2 separate regions of the Homo sapiens genome follow, and region 1 is linked to region 2. The links come from fine-mapping of genetic effects on gene expression. A gene starts in region 2. The other region holds a variant in brackets. All regions are shown on one strand. Distances are from middle to middle.

Region 1 (8,635 bases), 76 kb before region 2:
ATAGGCCCCAAGGGAGGCCAGGGCAGGAGGCTGGAGGCTCGTAGGCCTCCGGGACCCTGGATTTCGTTAGCTCTTAGTCCCCGTGTGGATTCTAAACCCTACAGCCCTGTCCGCCTGACCCTGAAGCTTCTGGTTCTAGACTCTTGCTCGGTTCGGCTTTCTGGCCTCCCTGGCGCCTTCCCGCCAAGCTCCTCCTCCTGCTTGCCTCCCCAGCCTCCACTTAGTCCCCTTCCTTAGGTCTCGCCCTCGCCTCACTCTAACTCCAGCCTTGTCCTAAGACTCTCAATTTCCAGCCCTGCTTCCTCCTCCCCGCGCGCTGCTCCCCAAGCGTCTTCACATTGTCTCTGTTCTTGCCTCCCAGGGGCTTTGCCCCACCTTCAGCCCCTCTCCCTCTCTACCCTATTTCCTTTTCGCCTCACAACTGCAGCCTTTAACGTTTCCTCCTCTGGTCTGAGCCTGAGACGCCCGAGTTTTCCTCTTTAGCTCCCGTGCCCCATTCCAGCCCCACCACAAATCCCGTGCCCACTCTTTCCACTGGCCCAGGCCCAGCTCACTACCTTTCTTAGAGCCCCTTTCCGACTACGCTCCCTTCTGTCCCTTCTCATCTCCTCCCCCAACTCCTCATTCTGTTCCTGTCCCCAGAAACCATCCCGAAGTATCTCCCTTCCCTCCTGTGGCTTCTCCCTATTCTCAGCCCTCTCCCACCCTAGCCCTCTCGCTATCACCAGCCATTAGCGCACCTTTCCTTCTCAGATCCGTCCATACATCCCTCCCTCTCCATCTCTGGCTCGACACCCGGGCTCACTATTAGTTCCCCTACATCCACCCCGCAGCCTGCTCTTAACCTCTCCTCCCCGGCGGCTCAGACCCAATTCTCAGTGTCCTTAGCGCCCCCTTCGGGCCACAGCGTTAAGCCACGCCCCCCGGGCCCCTCATCCGTTGCCAAGTTCGCTGAGCGTCCGCGTCTGGTTGCCTCTCCGCCCCACAGGGCATGTTCGTGCTGGGCCTACCCTACGCCATCCTGCACGGCGGCTACCTGGGGTTGTTTCTCATCATCTTCGCCGCCGTTGTGTGCTGCTACACCGGCAAGATCCTCATCGCGTGCCTGTACGAGGAGAATGAAGACGGCGAGGTGGTGCGCGTGCGGGACTCGTACGTGGCCATAGCCAACGCCTGCTGCGCCCCGCGCTTCCCAACGCTGGGCGGCCGAGTGGTGAACGTAGCGCAGATCATCGAGCTGGTGATGACGTGCATCCTGTACGTGGTGGTGAGTGGCAACCTCATGTACAACAGCTTCCCGGGGCTGCCCGTGTCGCAGAAGTCCTGGTCCATTATCGCCACGGCCGTGCTGCTGCCTTGCGCCTTCCTTAAGAACCTCAAGGCCGTGTCCAAGTTCAGTCTGCTGTGCACTCTGGCCCACTTCGTCATCAATATCCTGGTCATAGCCTACTGTCTATCGCGGGCGCGCGACTGGGCCTGGGAGAAGGTCAAGTTCTACATCGACGTCAAGAAGTTCCCCATCTCCATTGGCATCATCGTGTTCAGCTACACGTCTCAGATCTTCCTGCCTTCGCTGGAGGGCAATATGCAGCAGCCCAGCGAGTTCCACTGCATGATGAACTGGACGCACATCGCAGCCTGCGTGCTCAAGGGCCTCTTCGCGCTCGTCGCCTACCTCACCTGGGCCGACGAGACCAAGGAGGTCATCACGGATAACCTGCCCGGCTCCATCCGCGCCGTGGTCAACATCTTTCTGGTGGCCAAGGCGCTGTTGTCCTATCCTCTGCCATTCTTTGCCGCTGTCGAGGTGCTGGAGAAGTCGCTCTTCCAGGAAGGCAGCCGCGCCTTTTTCCCGGCCTGCTACAGCGGCGACGGGCGCCTGAAGTCCTGGGGGCTGACGCTGCGCTGCGCGCTCGTCGTCTTCACGCTGCTCATGGCCATTTATGTGCCGCACTTCGCGCTGCTCATGGGCCTCACCGGCAGCCTCACGGGCGCCGGCCTCTGTTTCTTGCTGCCCAGCCTCTTTCACCTGCGCCTGCTCTGGCGCAAGCTGCTGTGGCACCAAGTCTTCTTCGACGTCGCCATCTTCGTCATCGGCGGCATCTGCAGCGTGTCCGGCTTCGTGCACTCCCTCGAGGGCCTCATCGAAGCCTACCGAACCAACGCGGAGGACTAGGGCGCAAGGGCGAGCCCCCGCCGCGCTTCTGCGCTCTCTCCCTTCTCCCCTCACCCCGCCCCCACCAGCCCAGTGCGCCCTGCCGCCGCGCTTGGGAGGCCAAGCTTTAAACATCTCTGGTTCCTAGTTTCTGATTATTCGGGGATGGGGGGGATGGGAGGGGACAGGGATTCACGATCCATCGCGTCTGCGTTTCTGTTGTCCTTTCTTTTCCACAACACCCTGGTTTTGGGGGGAGGCGGGGTGCATTTGCGGGCAGGGTTCTCTGTCCTTCCAAGTGGGGCCCCGACACTTTGGTTCCAGTCATCGAGGGGGTTGGGAAGGGAGGGAGAGGGGGCGCAGCTCGCAGGCGTGGCAACTTGACCTTGGGGGAATATTTCACATCCATCCAGAGCTCGGAATCTACAGCGTCCAGCCATTTCCAGCAAGAGCGCTTCCCATTCCGGAGACGTTTCAACCCTGCAGCGGGAAAGGCTGACTGGGAAATCCATTTTGGGTGGGCAATTTCCTTCAACGAAGCCGGAAGGCGAGAAGCCGCGGCGGGGCCAGCTTGCCTGCCGGTTTTCAGGAATCTAAACTCTCATCTTGTGCAATTTATCAGGTGTGGAACTGTTCTACTGTGCGTGTGGTGTGCTCGTGGTGAATAAGATGAAATGTATATCAGAAAAAAATCTATCTCTAATTTAGAGTGCGGTACATAATTATATCCGCAAATAAAGAAGAGACAAAGGCTTGCGCGGCCCGGTGTCGGGTTTGTGTGTTCGTACCAGCCGGGATCCCCTGGCGCTGGGAGGCGTGGGAACTGGCTCCCGCCGGCTGAAACCGGAGATGGTGAGCAGCTGTGGTTAAAGGGTCCGGGGAGGGCTCTAGGGAGTACAAAGATTAGTTGGCGGCGAGGAGGCTCCTCAGGTGTGAGGAGGAAGCTGAAGACGGAGAGTGCTGTAGCGGCCCCCTCAGCTGCCAGGTCGAGGTTTGTTCGAATCTCTCCCCTGGGGGCGGGTCCATCTGAGAATTTGGTGGAAGCTCTCAACTTCCAACCTCAAAACAGAGAGGGACAGGGGGAGCTTTTATGTACCAGAACTTTATAAATTTGTTCAACAAATATTTATAAACAGCCAATCAGGGCTGGGGCAGTGTTGGAAACCTGGGGAAAGAAACTCAGCCTTGCCTTCCGGGAGCTTACAGTCTAGTGAGGTGGAGACAGGCAATAAACAAGGACAGGCAGGAATCCACAACGTGACTTCAGATTGTGAAGAGGGCTACAAAGGAAGTCAGAAGTGGGCTGTGCCTTTCACCAGGTCCCCAGAGCCACGAGCCAATCTGGCCCGGCAGGAGGCATCTGCCACCCAGGAGAACCCTGCCGTGCAATCCAAGGTGGGGTTTGCACAGCCATAGCAAAGAGATCTGACTCTAGAATCAACAGCCTCAAGTTGTAGGGTCCCAGTCTCCCCCTATCTTGCGCAGCCTGTCTGATAAAGTGTTTGCCTGAATTACCCGAAAGATCTAGTCTTTTTTGTGCTGATCCCACTCCAGGCGCAGCACCTGCACTGACTCCAGGAGGGCCAGTCCAGGGACTGTTGGGAAAGGTCAGAGTCAGACTTTCTGGGTGGGAGCTGGGAGTGCAAGTCCGCTGGGTGGGTTCCAGGGTCCGCTGTCACCACGGAGGCAGAGGCTTCGTTAGGAACGACTTCTCCAGGTGCGAATGGTGCACGGGAAAGAAGCCAGGGAGAATGCCTAAGTAGGGTGTGTGTTGCTCCCCGCCCGCTTGCAAGGGGCATGTGAGAGGCTAGGTGAAGATATGCGTGTGGGGTGGGGCAGGCTGCATCGTGTGTTGTGAGAACCTTGGTAAGTGTGTGTGCGTGTGTGCGTGTGTGCCGAGCATCCGGGTGGGCGTGCTCCCTAAAGCGCCTGCGACAGAGGTGACCTCGCATCACCCTGGTTCTGCGGCCACAGACCTGGAGTGGGAAGGGAGGAGGGATAGGACCCGGTGTCCTCAGCCATCACTGTGGCTCTAATGCTTTAAAACGGGCCATCTGAGAAGTCCGCTACCTTCGGCCTAATTCCCCGGGGTCACTATTGTCGCGTGTTCAGGATCCGGCACTGGCTGAAGGGTCCTCAGTTTCTCGTCTTCCCATGACCACTGACGTCTCCCAGGCCTGGGGCCGAGGGGTGGGGTGGGGAGCTGATTGTTCTTCCCCCGCCCCAACTCCCAAGGTTTCTCAGCGGGTCCACGGACCCTGGGGTGCTCTCCGAGTCAGTGTGTCGCCTTCAGAAAAATCCCGGACTTCTATGGTGGAAGGGAAGGTGGGAGCGTCACGCTGCACCATCTCTGTCCTTCCCGTCTTTAAAAGGTCGAAGGAGACACTAGGCAGGCTCCGGATAGCGGCGCCAACTCTGCGGGCTCGCCTGGATCCGCTCCACTAATCCTGGCTCCAGGTTTTGTGCTCAGCTTGCAGCGTCTCTTGTCCTAGGGGGCGAATCCTGAGGGTGGCAGGGGCGGGAGAACTAGCACCCTAGACGCCCAAGGGAAACCCGAAACCCTGGTCGGTAGGACACCGATACCCGGACTCGCATCCAGGCTACTGAGAGAAATAAGGAGGAGGAGTGGATGGCACCCGTCTCTGCACCTCTCATCTCCCCCACCCATCTACCCCCACCTCCACCATCACTAAAGCGTAAAGGTAGATGTTGAAAGGAAGAAGTCCCAGCTTTCCTCGCAGTGGGCTCGCTGTGCAAGTCCAAGAGAGCAGATAGTTCTGGCAAGGCTCATTCTGGGATCGGATTGAGAAGGAGAGGAGGAATCCGCGTCAGCCCCACAGGGCTCACATCAGTTCTTATGGGGCACCCTAGCTGGACGTGCTGCAGACCCTGTAAGC[T/C]GTCCCCACCTGGGTCCGCAGCATAAGTGTGTAGGTGTACCTGGCCCCTTGCCTTGGGGCCAGGACCTGGAACCACCAAGACCCACGTGCGCCGGCGGAACCCAGGATCGCGATCGCACGGTCCCAAGACCGCCCTGCCTCGCCCCCTAGCGGTGAGAGCGCAAACTGCCGGCCCGCAAGGACGGTTCTCCACCCTAGTCCTAAATGCTTCTTGTCTCCCCCTACCCCACCTCCTGCTTAGTTGATAAGCATTGCTTCTTTCTAGTGCTTTATTTCAGGTCCTCAACATTACAAAAGTTTTTAGTCATTTTTCCCCAAACATGGATGGATGCTTATTATTGAACATGTTTTGTTATATGACACCGTCTTATCCCAGGGACTGAGTGTTCCTCACTTAAAGACCTGGTAGGGAGGGAGCCAAACAGGCTCCATGGGGGCCATCCAGGAAGTGGAGAGGATCCAGGCCTTGCTATTCTAGAGGGGACTTCAGGGACAAGAGCCAGAGAGAGGCTTTGGTCAAGGAGGGGGCAGGTCCCTAGGTGGGCTCCATCCTCACCATGAGTGAGGGTGTGGTAGGGTACTCAGTCCTGGACAGCCAAGGATTCATTCGTTGCACTTGTTTGACCTCAGAGAGCCAGCCTTGGGTGTCCTTCTCATAGCTCTTTCGTTTTTTCCTTTTCAAGATTATGAAGAATTTCTAATGTATAGAAAAGGTGAAAGAATTCCACACTGAACATACATACACCCACACCCACCGCCGCCTAGACTGGATGATTAACAGTTTAAAACACTGTATCTACCCCATACCTATCCATCTATCCATCCAACAGTCTACCTGTAAAAAAAAAACAACATTCAAAAGTTGCAGACATCAGTATATTTCCCTCCCAAATAATTATTATCATTTTTGAGACAGGGTCTCGGTCTGTCACCCAGGCTGGAGTGCAGTGGTGAGAACACAGCTCACTGCAACCTTGACCTCCTGGGCTCAAGTGATCCTCCCACCTCAGCCCCCCGAGCAACTGACACCACAGGCAAGGCATGTGCTACCATTTTCAGCTAATTTTTAAATTTTTTGTAGAGACAGAGTCTCATCATGTTCCCCAGGCTGGTCTCAAACTCTGGGCTCAAGCAATCCCCCTGCCTTAGCCTCCCAAAGTGCTGGGATTATAGGCATGAACCCCTGTGCCCAGCCACCCCTCCCAAATTTTTAAGCTTTCAGGACAAGTAACAGTGACATTCAGATAGCACAGCATCAGTACAGCACTAATCTGAGCCACACTGGAGACCAAGGCAAAAAAAGCAATATCCATCCTTTCTTTACCTCAGATATTGTTATTTTGCTTACATTATTTTGAACGTTATGGTTCACTTTTGCATTAATTTTGATTTTTAAAAAATATTGCATTAAAATTTTATTTATATTGCTTTCTGGATTTTTTGCACCCTCTTAAATTTTGCTACCAAAGGAAATGCCTCACTTGCCTCATGCTAATCCTGGTCCTGGATGTGAGGCCAGGCCTGGGAGATGAGCTCTGCCCCCCCGGGAGATTTGGATTGAGATTTTTCAAGAGTCTGACTATAGCTGGTTCCACAGTGATGCTTTGGGCACCATCTCTGCCAGTTGTGGAGTCCAGGAAGGCACAGTGAGAGCAGAGCCTCTGACCAGGGACACCCAGCAGCATGGTCCAGCAGAGTCACATAGCGGGTGGGGTGGAGGGAGCTTTACGATTCCAGAAGCTTCCAGCAACCCTCTTGGGGGTGGGATGGAAACAGGGTGAAAAGGCTGAGGATGCTATAGAGGGGTTGGTGGTGTCTAGAAGGGAAGGCGGTGCAGCTAGAAGGGAGAGCACAATTAAAGGAATTGTTAGTGTGATTCAGTTCCTGTTTCAAGGTCTGGTAGTTAAACAAGATTTATTTATCAAATATTTGTTAAGCACCCACTCTAGGCCACACACTAGGCTAAGGTCTAATGTGTGGGAATGCAACAGGAAACAAGACAGACATGGCCTCTCTGGTAGTTGTCAGTGCCCACCCTATGTTCCCTAGATGCACCTAAGTTTACCTGAAGCTGTGGAACATGAACCACTGCCAGTGCCTCCATCTCTCCTCATCTCCCTGAGGGCTTTCTAGGCTACCTTGGGAGCATGACTTGGAATTGTCGGGCAGCTAACAGCCCCTAGTGCTCAATCAATTGGCAATAAATGCCTGTCTCCTGTCCTGTGATGGGACCATTTTAGGTCTATTCCACAAGGTATCTTGGAGGGTCCCCAGCAGGATTGAACCTCAGGTGTCCACAAGCTCATCAAAGCAATCTTTATTTGGCCTTTCCCCCTTCCTTTTCTTCCTTTCCCTACTTTCAAGGTTCACCTCCCACATAAATTGACTGCATCTGAATCTTTGTCTTAGGGTCTACTTTTAGGGAAAGGTAAATGAAGATCCTATATTCACAGTGCTTCTAATGTAATATAGTGGTCCCCAAATATCTTTCCATAGGCAGGTGCCAGGCTGGGTGAATCAGAATAAAATGGGGAGCTTTCTAGAAATTCCTGCTCCCCACAAAACCCCTAGATTCAGATTCAGAAAGACCTTTCTCCTCCTTCTCTTCCTCCTCCTCAACCCCCTCCTCCTCTTCTTCCTCCTTCTTTCAAGTTCCCAACGTGCCACTGGCTTGGGACCACTAATATTGAGAAGGTTTGGTCAATGGGAGGGTGGTGGATGGATGGATGAATAGATGGATGGATTAGTAAATGCTTTGAGGTCAAGGGTTGGATGGTTGAGCCAATGAATAGATGAATCAGTGAGTGAAGGAAAAAAATGGATTATAGATGAATGGTGGACCAATAAATGGTCCATGGATGAAAGGAAGAAAAGAAGGAAACATAAACAGGTCCATAGCAACAAACTTTAGTAAACTCCACAAGGGCAGAGATATTCTCTGTTTGGCACCCTACTGGATCTCCACTATCTAACACAGACCTGATATACAGAATGTTCTTAATAAATTATGTTCAAATAAATAATGTATTTTCAGAAAACTATCGACACATTAATAGTACTAAAGTCACAGAAACTATGAGGTCAACCAGGAGAGTGCATGAACATTTAAAAAGCACCGGGCCAGTGACCTTGGATAACAGCAATATTTAAAGGTCAGGCAGGCCAGATGTGGAGGCTCACGCCTGTAATCCCAGCATTTTGGGAGGCCAAGGAGAGCGGATCACCTGAAGTCATGAGTTTGAGACCAGCCTGGCCAACATGGTGTAACCCCGTCTCTACTAAAACTACAAAAATTAGCCGAGCATGGTGGCGTGTACCTGTAGTCCCAGCTACTCGGGAGGCTGAGGCAGGAAAATCGCTTGAACCCAGGAGGCGGAAGTTGCAGTGAGCCGAGATCGCACCACTGCATTCCAGCCTGGGGGACAAGAGTGAGACTATTTCTCAAAAAAAAAAAAAAAAAAAAAGTCAAGCAAATGAAGAGAAGGAGGAAAAGAATGAGGAGTCAAGATTGATAAAACATAGTCTGACAGGGAGGAGAAGAATATAAAGAGAATGATATCCTGGAATTGAGGAAGGACAGGTT
Region 2 (8,635 bases):
CAAAGCAGCGGCACCATTTTACATTTCCACCAGCAATGTATGAAGGATCCAATTTCTCCATATCCTTACCAATGCTGGTTATTGCCTATCTTTTTTATTATAACCATCTTAGTGGGTATGAAGTGGTATCTCATTGTGGCTTTGCATTTCCTTCATTGCTAATGATGTTGAGCATCTTGGCCATGTGTATATCTATCTTCTTTGAAGAAATGTCTATCCAGATCCCTTGGCCTTTTTTTTTTTTTTTTTTTTTTTTTTTTTTTTTGAGACTGGGTCTCGCTCTGTCGCCCAGGCTGGAGTGCAGTGGTGTGATCTTGGTTCACCGCAACCTCTGCCTCCCAGGTTCAAACAATCCTCCCACCTCAGCCTCCCCAGTAGCTGGGACTACAGGCCCATGCCATCATGCCCAGTTAACTTTTTGTATTTTTAGTAGAGTCAGGGTTTTGCCATGTTGCCCAGGCTCCTTGCCCATTTTTTATTATTTGTCTCTTTATTATAGAGTTGTAAGAGTTCCTTATATATTCTAGATATAAGTCCCTTACCAGGAATATGATTTGCAAATATTTCCTCCCGTTCTGTGGGATATTGTATTATTTTGCCAAGGCTGCCATAACATAATACTATAGACTGGGTGGCTTAAACAACAGAAATTGGCTGGGTGCGGTGGCTCACACCTGTAATCCCAGCACTTTGGGAGGCCGAGGTGGGTGGATCACTTGAGGTCAGGAGTTTGAGACCAGCCTGGCCAACATGGTGAAACCCTTACTCTACTAAAAATACAAAAATTAGCCGAGCGTGGGGGCATGCACCTGTAATCCCAGCTTCTCAGGAGGCTGAGGCAGGAGAATCGCTTGAACCTGGGAGGTGGAGGTTGCAGTAAGCCAAGATCGTGCCACTGCACTCCACCCTGGGCAGCAGAGTGAAACTCTATGTCAAAAAAACAAAACAAAACAAACCCCCAGAAATTTATTCCTCACAATTCTGAAGGCTACAATTCTGAGATCAAGGTGTTGGCAGGTCTGGTCCCCCAGCCCTGAGTCCTCTCTCCTTGGTTTGTAATTAACCTTCTTCTCCCTGTGCCTTCCTCTGGTCTTTCCTCTGTGTGGCGCATCTCTAGTGTCTCTTCTTATGAGGACACCAGTCATTGGATGAGGGCCCCATCCAAGGGCCTCAGTTTAAGATGATCACCTCTTTAAAGACCTTATCTCCATCCACAGTTACATTCTGAGGTTCTGAGACTGTAACCAGTACAGTTCAGCATATGAATGGGGGTGAGGGGGCACACAATTCAGCTTATAACAGTTATTTTTTCACTCTCTTTTTGTTCTTTTTATGTTTAATTTTTTTTTTTTTTTTTTTTTAGAGACAGGGTCTTGCTCTGTCACCCAGGCGGGAGTACAGTAGCACCATCATAGCTCACTGCAGCCTTGAACTCCTAGGCAAAAGCAATCCTCTTAAATAGCTAGGACTACAATCATGAACCACTACGTCTGCCTAATTTTAAAAGAATTTGTAGAGACAGAGTTTCACTATGTTGCCCTGGCTGGTCTTGAGCTCCTGGCCTCAAGTAATCCTCCTATCTCCACCTCCCAAAATGCTGGGATTATAGGTGTGAGCCACCAGGCCCAGCCATAACTTTTCACTTTCTTGATGATACCCCTGAAAGCACAAAAGTTTTTAATTTATCTATTTTTTTTTCTTTTGTTGCTTGTGCTAATATCTAAGCAACTACTGTTTAATCCAAAGTCATGAAGATTTAGGCTTATGTTTTCTTCAGAGAGTTTTATAGTTTTAGCTCTTACATTTAGATCTATATGTTGCATATAGTATGAAGCAGGGATCCAAATTCATTCTTTTGCATGTGGATATCCAGTTGTCCCAGCACCATTTTTTGAAAACACTATTCTTTCCCCATTAAATTGTCTTGGCACTCTTGTTGAAAATCAATTGGCAGTAAGTGTAAGGGCTTCTGTCTGGACTCTCAGTTTTATTCCATTGGTCTGTATGCCCATCCTTATACCCGTACCACCCTGCCTTGATGACTGAAGTTTCCTAGTAAGTTTTGAAATCAGGACTTGTGAGTCCCCCAACTTATTCTGAATTTACTTTAACTTTTGATACCGAACACAGTGTGAGAGGTGAATGAACAGCATGACATTGGAGTTGGGAGCCCCCTCCCTCCAAAGGCCTTATTTTAGGAACACAGGCCCCAAGTGCCACACAAGCCTTGGAGAGATGGGTTCCCATCCTCTCAGCCCATGGCTCTTCATTATCAATCAATGGAAACATTCTTCGGAGAACAATGATTCCCTTGGGTTATTTTAAACATGGCTTTAAGTCTTCCCCACATGCTCTACTGTCTAATTGCTTTTCCTGAAACAGTGTCATTCACAACTGGATTATTAATGAACTGAGAGGGAGCCAGGGAGCCAATGAAGGGGGCTTACAGAGTTCCTGGAGAGGGCCTGGGGGCCTGGAACAAGTTCAACCCACAGATTTTCTCTCCCCCAAGAAAGGTGACTGAGCAAACAGAAAATCACTAAACTCAGGTGATGCTGGTGGCCTCAAAAGAATATTGCCAGTGAAAAAAAAAGGATTCGGGCGAGTTCCTCAAACATGACAGCTGAGAATCAAATTAACTGGGTACCATCCCCAAACTCCCCAAACTTAAACTCTGAATTTCCCCAGCTGGCTGGCCCTGGGGTGCCTAGGGCTCTCATCTGTAGGCCGGGAAAGCTCAGGAAACAAGGCCTTTGTGGAGAAGAGAAACCTATTGTTCTAAGGCCAGGGTTCAGCAAATGTGGATTCCAGAGAATGTTTGGGGAGGTTTTCTCTGCTTTGTTTATGAACTTTCTTTTCTCTTCCTGGGGTGGTGATGGTGGGGGGTGACTCTCAGCAACTTAAATAGTTAAACCCATTGTGTTGTAAAGAAAGGCTGGTGCACAGAGTGCAGAGGCCTTCAGCCCCAGAAAGAGGCTTGAATGAGGTGACAGAAGCCACCGGGTATGTTTTGCTTTTTATTTTTAGCGTTAAATCTCAGGGAAGCAGCCCCTATCTTCATCCTGCACATCTCAAAGGGCGTCAGACGTCAGCAGAGGTACGACCACTTCCTTCCTCCAGCGCTTCACCTCCCTTCTTTCCAGAAAGAGGAAATGATGCGAGTCCACACCGCAGGCCACAGCCCCCATGTCTCGGCCCCAGCAGCTGGGGGACCTGGCCCCACAGATCTGTCCCCAGCGCAAGGCCAGGGCCGGCCCCTGGACCTCCTGGGAAGCCTTCAGACTCAGGCCGCGCAGGCCTTCAAGCTAGGAACCCTGAGTTCCTGGCCCTGGCATTCATTCTGTGTGACCTTGAGCAGGTTACCACTCCTCTCTGGGCTTCAGGATTCCCGTCTGTCAAATGGGAGCAGGGATACCGTCCTTGGCTTCCCTCTTTCCATGGTCGGGGTGGGGGTTAGGAAAACTATTTTGGAGGAGGGGGCAGCGTTAGGAAAACTATTCCGAAGCCTGGCCACGTCCCAACCGGTTTCAACTTCCTGCAGCTCAGAAGAGGGGTCCCCACCCGAGAGCGCCGGGACCCTGTCCCGCGCTGCCTCCCAAGCCGGATGGGGTTGAGCGCGCCCACCCCAGTCCCAGGAGCTCAGGCCCCGCCTTGGGGGAGGAGCCGAGAGGCGGCGCGGAGGCTCGCGGCCGAGCAGAGCCAGCTCTGTCGCCGCTGGAGCAGCTGCGGCTCGGGGACCCACAGACACAGCCGGGGTCGGGAGCCGCCCGGGGCAGGGCTCGGGAGAGCGGGTGAGTTCCCCGGCGGCGCCACCACCCTCCTTGCGCTCTGCGGCTTCGCAGGGCGGGGGATGAGGATGGGGCGGGGAGGTGGTCCCAGCCTGCTATCACCTAGCTGGGGGCCGGGGCGCTTTGGCCAAGGGACGATAGCTTGAGATAAATGGGAGTGTGGGGACTCTGGAAAGACGGGTACCGAGAGCGCTAGGTCCGGGAGTCGGGCTGGAATGGGGGCGTTCTCCCCGGCCTCGCAATTCCTTGACGAGGCCAGGGGAGGGGGCGCATTGGCAGGTTGTTGGCTGCGGCCGTCGTAGACCGATCTTGGGGCGGGGAGGTGGGGTCCTCGGTCTGTTCTGGACTCATGGGGCCGCCGTCTGCCGGGGGTGCAATGCCGGGCGGCGGGAGCCACAGCGGACACCAAACAACCCCCCCCCGCGCACTCTCCCGGCCGGGCATGGTGGTGCCGCCCCCTCGCGTGGCGGGGCTTGGTCCTGGCGGGCAGCGGCAGGGCGCAGAGAGCGCTCCTGCCCGGGCGGGAAAGATCCCCAAGGCAGGCGCCTCCACCTGCAGACCCGCCCCGCCTCAGGATCCGGCTGACAGCACCAGCCAGCCCGGGGAGACCCCGCGAGTGGTAGTTCCCCGGGAGGGGCGCGCCCGGCCTCTCCCAGGGCCCCGTGCGCCGGCGGCTGGGTCCCCCGCGCCAGGAGCGCTCCCCTCTGGGCGACTCCGGCTCATCGATTCCGGCCCAGAGGAGCGCCCCCGGGCGCCGAGGATGGGCGGAGACGTGCAGCCGCCCCTGAGAGGTCGCCCAGAGGGGTCTCCCCAAGGTCACCCGGAGTGCCCAGGCTGAGCTGCCCAGACCGCCCCGGGTGGAGAGCCGGGAGGCAGGCGCTCGCTGCCCTCCTCCTTCCCCCATGTAGACTCCCTTCCTCCGCTCCCCCACCCCGGCCCGGCCTCCAGCTTCACTGGAGATGCTGATGATGCAGCTCCCAGCCCTTGGAGGATAATTGAGCCTGGGAGAGCTTTGAATCTGGCCCTCCTGAGACCCCAGGGCTGCGCCGCTGCCGCGCGCCAGGCCTGGGTCCCGGTGCTCCCGGGCACCTCAGGAGCGGAGGGAGAGGGATGTGGCTTCATCAGCGCTTCTAGGAACCGAAAACCGAGCTGCCTGCGCGCCCATGTGATTGCATTTCACATAAAGGGCCCCTGTTTTCACTGTCAGAAGAGCCCCCCAGCTCTCCGCGGCTCTGGACACCAGGTGCCGCCTCTGAATCACCCTCTGTGGAGGACCCGGGGCCCGGAGGTACAGGCGCCCTTTCCCGCAGGGCTCTCCCTGGAAAGGGCCTGCCGATGGCGGCCTCAGTCCGCAGGGGTACTTCCCTGTGTACCCTGCCATTTCCTGCGGCTGGTGAAGCACCGGAGAAAAACCGTCCATCTAGGAGGCCTCCTCCAAGGCTGGTAATAAAGCTTCTTAGCCCAGCCAGCGACTAGCTGTCTACTCGTGGGCAAGGTACTTGGCTTCTGGAGTCTCAACTGCCTCTAAGATACGGGGCTAACAGCCGCCAGGCTGTGGGGAGATGAGGGAGAGGCTGGGTGCAGCAGAGCGGGAGGATGAACACTCCTTGGCCAATACTGGCCGCCCTCGGGATTGGCTTTGAGTGGGGCGTGTCTCTCTTAGACAGGTGCAGAAGTGGAGCCCTGGTGGGTGGTTCTGCAGGGGCTGGGGGAGTTTCCACATCTTCCTCCCCCAGCTCTGTCATAAAAAGCCAGCTTGCAGGAGGCCGGTGGGGGCCAGCAAATCCTTCCAGCCGGCTGCCTGCTCACACGGCCCTTCCCACACAAATCTCCCATGCCCTTCTCTCCCACCTGTCACCCAAATCCCATCTTCCTGGCTGAGTCCCCAGGATGCTGGGGGCAAGATGTCAACCAGGCCACCCTGGACTGTCAACTCTGTGCCTACTTGTCTACTGGGGTCTACCTAACAGTGTTCCCCTGTCCTGGAACCTTCCTGGCTCCAGCTCTTCCCAGCCTCTGTAATGTCTTCTTTCCCCTCTTTTGGTCTCCTACCACCGTGACACTCATTAGTGGCTCTGTGGTTCATGTGTCAAGGGCCCCGTGCCATCTGTGCTCTCCAGATCATCCATGGCCTAGAAAGACACGGTAGGCAAGGCCCTGTGCCCACTCAGACTTTGCTCTCCCTGGTAATTGACGGAGTGGAGGTTAAATTCTAATCTAGCTGTTAAGTCATTTCAGGAGCTTGAGCCACAGGGCTAAGAGGATACTGATGTAGGCAGGTGGTTTTTCCTTAAAGCCAGAACCTTTCTCCTTTCTGCAGAGCCCATTTGAGCCCTTTGGAAACTAGGCCTATGTGTGATGGCCTCACAGAATCCTCACAACCCCGTGAAGTAGGCATTACTGATTCCCATTTTGCAGATGGGAAAACTGGGGCTCAGCTCCTCTCAAAACCAGCTCCATGCCCCAAGTGTAGCAACAGAGGCTGCAGCCAACCTGGTTTAGGAGAAGGCAGAAGGCACATACCTGAATTCAGGTGCTGTGCTTGGACTCTTGGGACCCCATCCCCCCAACCTTTCCCTCCCCTCTCCCAACCTAGCCACCACCCCTCCTGCACCCAGGACTCTTGTCACATTTGTTGACCAGGAGGTCCCAACTGGCACTCTTCCAGCAGAGACCAGGAAAACCTTCACTGTCCTGAGTGCATCTTAGCAATTGGGCTTCAAGAAGGGCTCGGACAAGCCTGCCTCTTACAGAAAGCTACGAGTATGAAGAGTGAGGGAGCCAGAGAGGTCTAATTTTAATTAGGGATCTATACCTAAAAGCTCTGTGACCCTGTATACATGACTTAATCTCTCTGAGTCTGGTTTTCTCATTTGTAAAATAGGTATCACAGTAATGCCTACTTTGTGGGATTGTAAGGATTCCATGAGACCATTAACACATAGAAAGTGCTCAGTACTAGGGTGGAGCATAGTGGCTCACACCTGTAATCCCAGCAGTTTGGGAGGCCAAGGCGGGAGGATCACTAGACGTCAGGAGTTCGAGACCAGCTGGCCAACATGGTGAAACCCCATCTCTACTAAAAATACAAAAATTAGTGCAGCATGGTGGCGCATGCCTGTAGTCCTAGCTACTTGGGAGGCTGAGGCACGAGAATTGCTTGAACCCGGGAGCAGGAGGTTGCAATGAGCCGAGATCACATGACTGCACTCCAGCCTGGGTGACAGAGCGAGACTCCATCTCAAAAAGAAAAAGAAAAAAAAAAGTGCTCAGTACAGCATCTGGTGTGGGTAGGAATGCAGGAAATGATCATTGTCACCATCACTACTATTTCCTCCTTTGTGTTGGACTCTCAAAGGTCCCACCTCCTCCAGTGCTAGGGTGGGGAGTGAGTGCGACCCTGTCTCTTCTGCCTGTAGCCATCAGGACGGGGAAAGCCTCTCAGCCTGTCTCCTGGGGCGGGGGTGGGGGCTCACTCCTGGGAACTTGAGTCTAGCACCAGCTTTTCCCCGGGGAGTCTGTGAGCAGCCACTTAGCCTTTCTCAGCTGACTGCCATTTTCCAGGATTCATTGATTCATTCAAAAGACGTTTATTCCATCCCAGCCCTTGTGCTTAGCAAGGGATTTCAAGATGAATGAGGCAGCTCTCAGAGTTCTCCCTCTATGGGGAGAGGCAGGCCTGGAGACAGATAATGAGGACACTGTGGGATAAAGGCTGCAACAGCAAGAAGAGAGAGTGACGAGCAGATCCACATGGCTCAGGCTGACCCAGGTCTGAATCTTGAAGCTGCCACCTTGTAGCTGGGTGAGGATGGACAGAGGCCTTACCTCTCAAGCAGATAAGCCACCTCCCTAAGATGATGATGTGAGGAGAGAAGTGAGACACTGTGGATAAAAAACCTAGCTTGGACCAGGTGCGGTGGCTCATGCCTGTAATCCCAGCAATTTGGGAGGCAGAGGTGGGCAGACTGATTGACTCCAGGAGTTCGAGACTAGCCTGGGCAATATGGCAAAACCCCGTCTCTACAAAAAATACAAAAAATTAGCCAGGCATGGTGGTGTGCACCTGTAGTCCCAGCTACTTGGAAGGCTGAGGTGGGAGAATCACCTGAACGGGGGAAGTGGAGGCTCCTGTGAGCCATGATTGCGTGCACCTCTGCACTCTAGCCTGGGCAACAGAGTAAGACCTTGTTTCGAAAAAAAAAAAAAAAAAAAAACAAAACCAAAAAACTTAAAAACCCAGCTTGGGCTTTCTAGATATTAATAAGTGCTCACAGATGTTCGTTGCTATTATTAGTCTATTATTGCCAATAACAGGTGGGCAAAAGTTGCTGTGGGAGCATGTTGAGCCCTTCAGTGACAGTTTTCCAGGTGGTAGGGCAGCCCTAGCCGGGAGAACAGCATGTGCAGAGGCACCGAGGCTTAAAAGTGCTGGATGTTTTTGGAGAGCAGTGGGAGGAGTTGCTGATGGAGCAGAGTCATGAGAAAGTTTGATGGAGGCAGAAGCAAGGCCAGGGAGGTAGCAGAGGCTATCCTGCCGGGAGCCCCGAAGGATTAAACACTCACTGACCCGAGGCAGTCCCTCTGCACCTTCCTTGGAGGGTGGTTCTCTAGTGAGGGTTGTCCAGGAAACTTCAGGATTAACTTTTGCATGGGAGGAAGGGCTGGTCTCTGCTCAACTATCCATACATTCACCATCCTTCCCTCTTCATTCCACCCAGGAAGCACGAAGAAGAAGAGGTCCACTCCCTCTTCCTGAGATGCTTTTCCCACCTCTGCACTTGTTTCTCTCTTCCTGGGACTCAGTTTCTCACCTGAGAGAAGAGGGTAGAAGTGGAGGAAGCGTC

What was found.
Region 1: its variant is fine-mapped to the expression of PPP1R16B in whole blood (INTERVAL, PIP 0.91).

Annotation. Positions count from the first base shown.
Region 1 is chr20:38,726,464-38,735,098 of GRCh38, forward strand. SLC32A1 (solute carrier family 32 member 1) reads left to right here. Exons shown (of 2, transcript NM_080552.3): 2 at 989-2,909. The coding sequence ends at 2,176. Among named protein-coding and RNA genes, the nearest start is that of SLC32A1, 6.3 kb to the left of the region's middle. RefSeq lists enhancers at 1-415, 630-1,290, 1,951-2,610, 5,041-5,566 and a silencer at 723-1,017. The variant T/C (reference allele first, on the strand shown) is at 5,053.
Region 2 is chr20:38,802,002-38,810,636 of GRCh38, forward strand. PPP1R16B (protein phosphatase 1 regulatory subunit 16B) reads left to right here and starts at 3,696. Exons shown (of 11, transcript NM_015568.4): 1 at 3,696-3,791. RefSeq lists enhancers at 2,009-2,871, 2,872-3,733, 3,016-3,285, 4,314-5,152, 6,732-6,781 and 1 more and silencers at 3,546-3,925, 4,116-4,335, 4,396-4,745.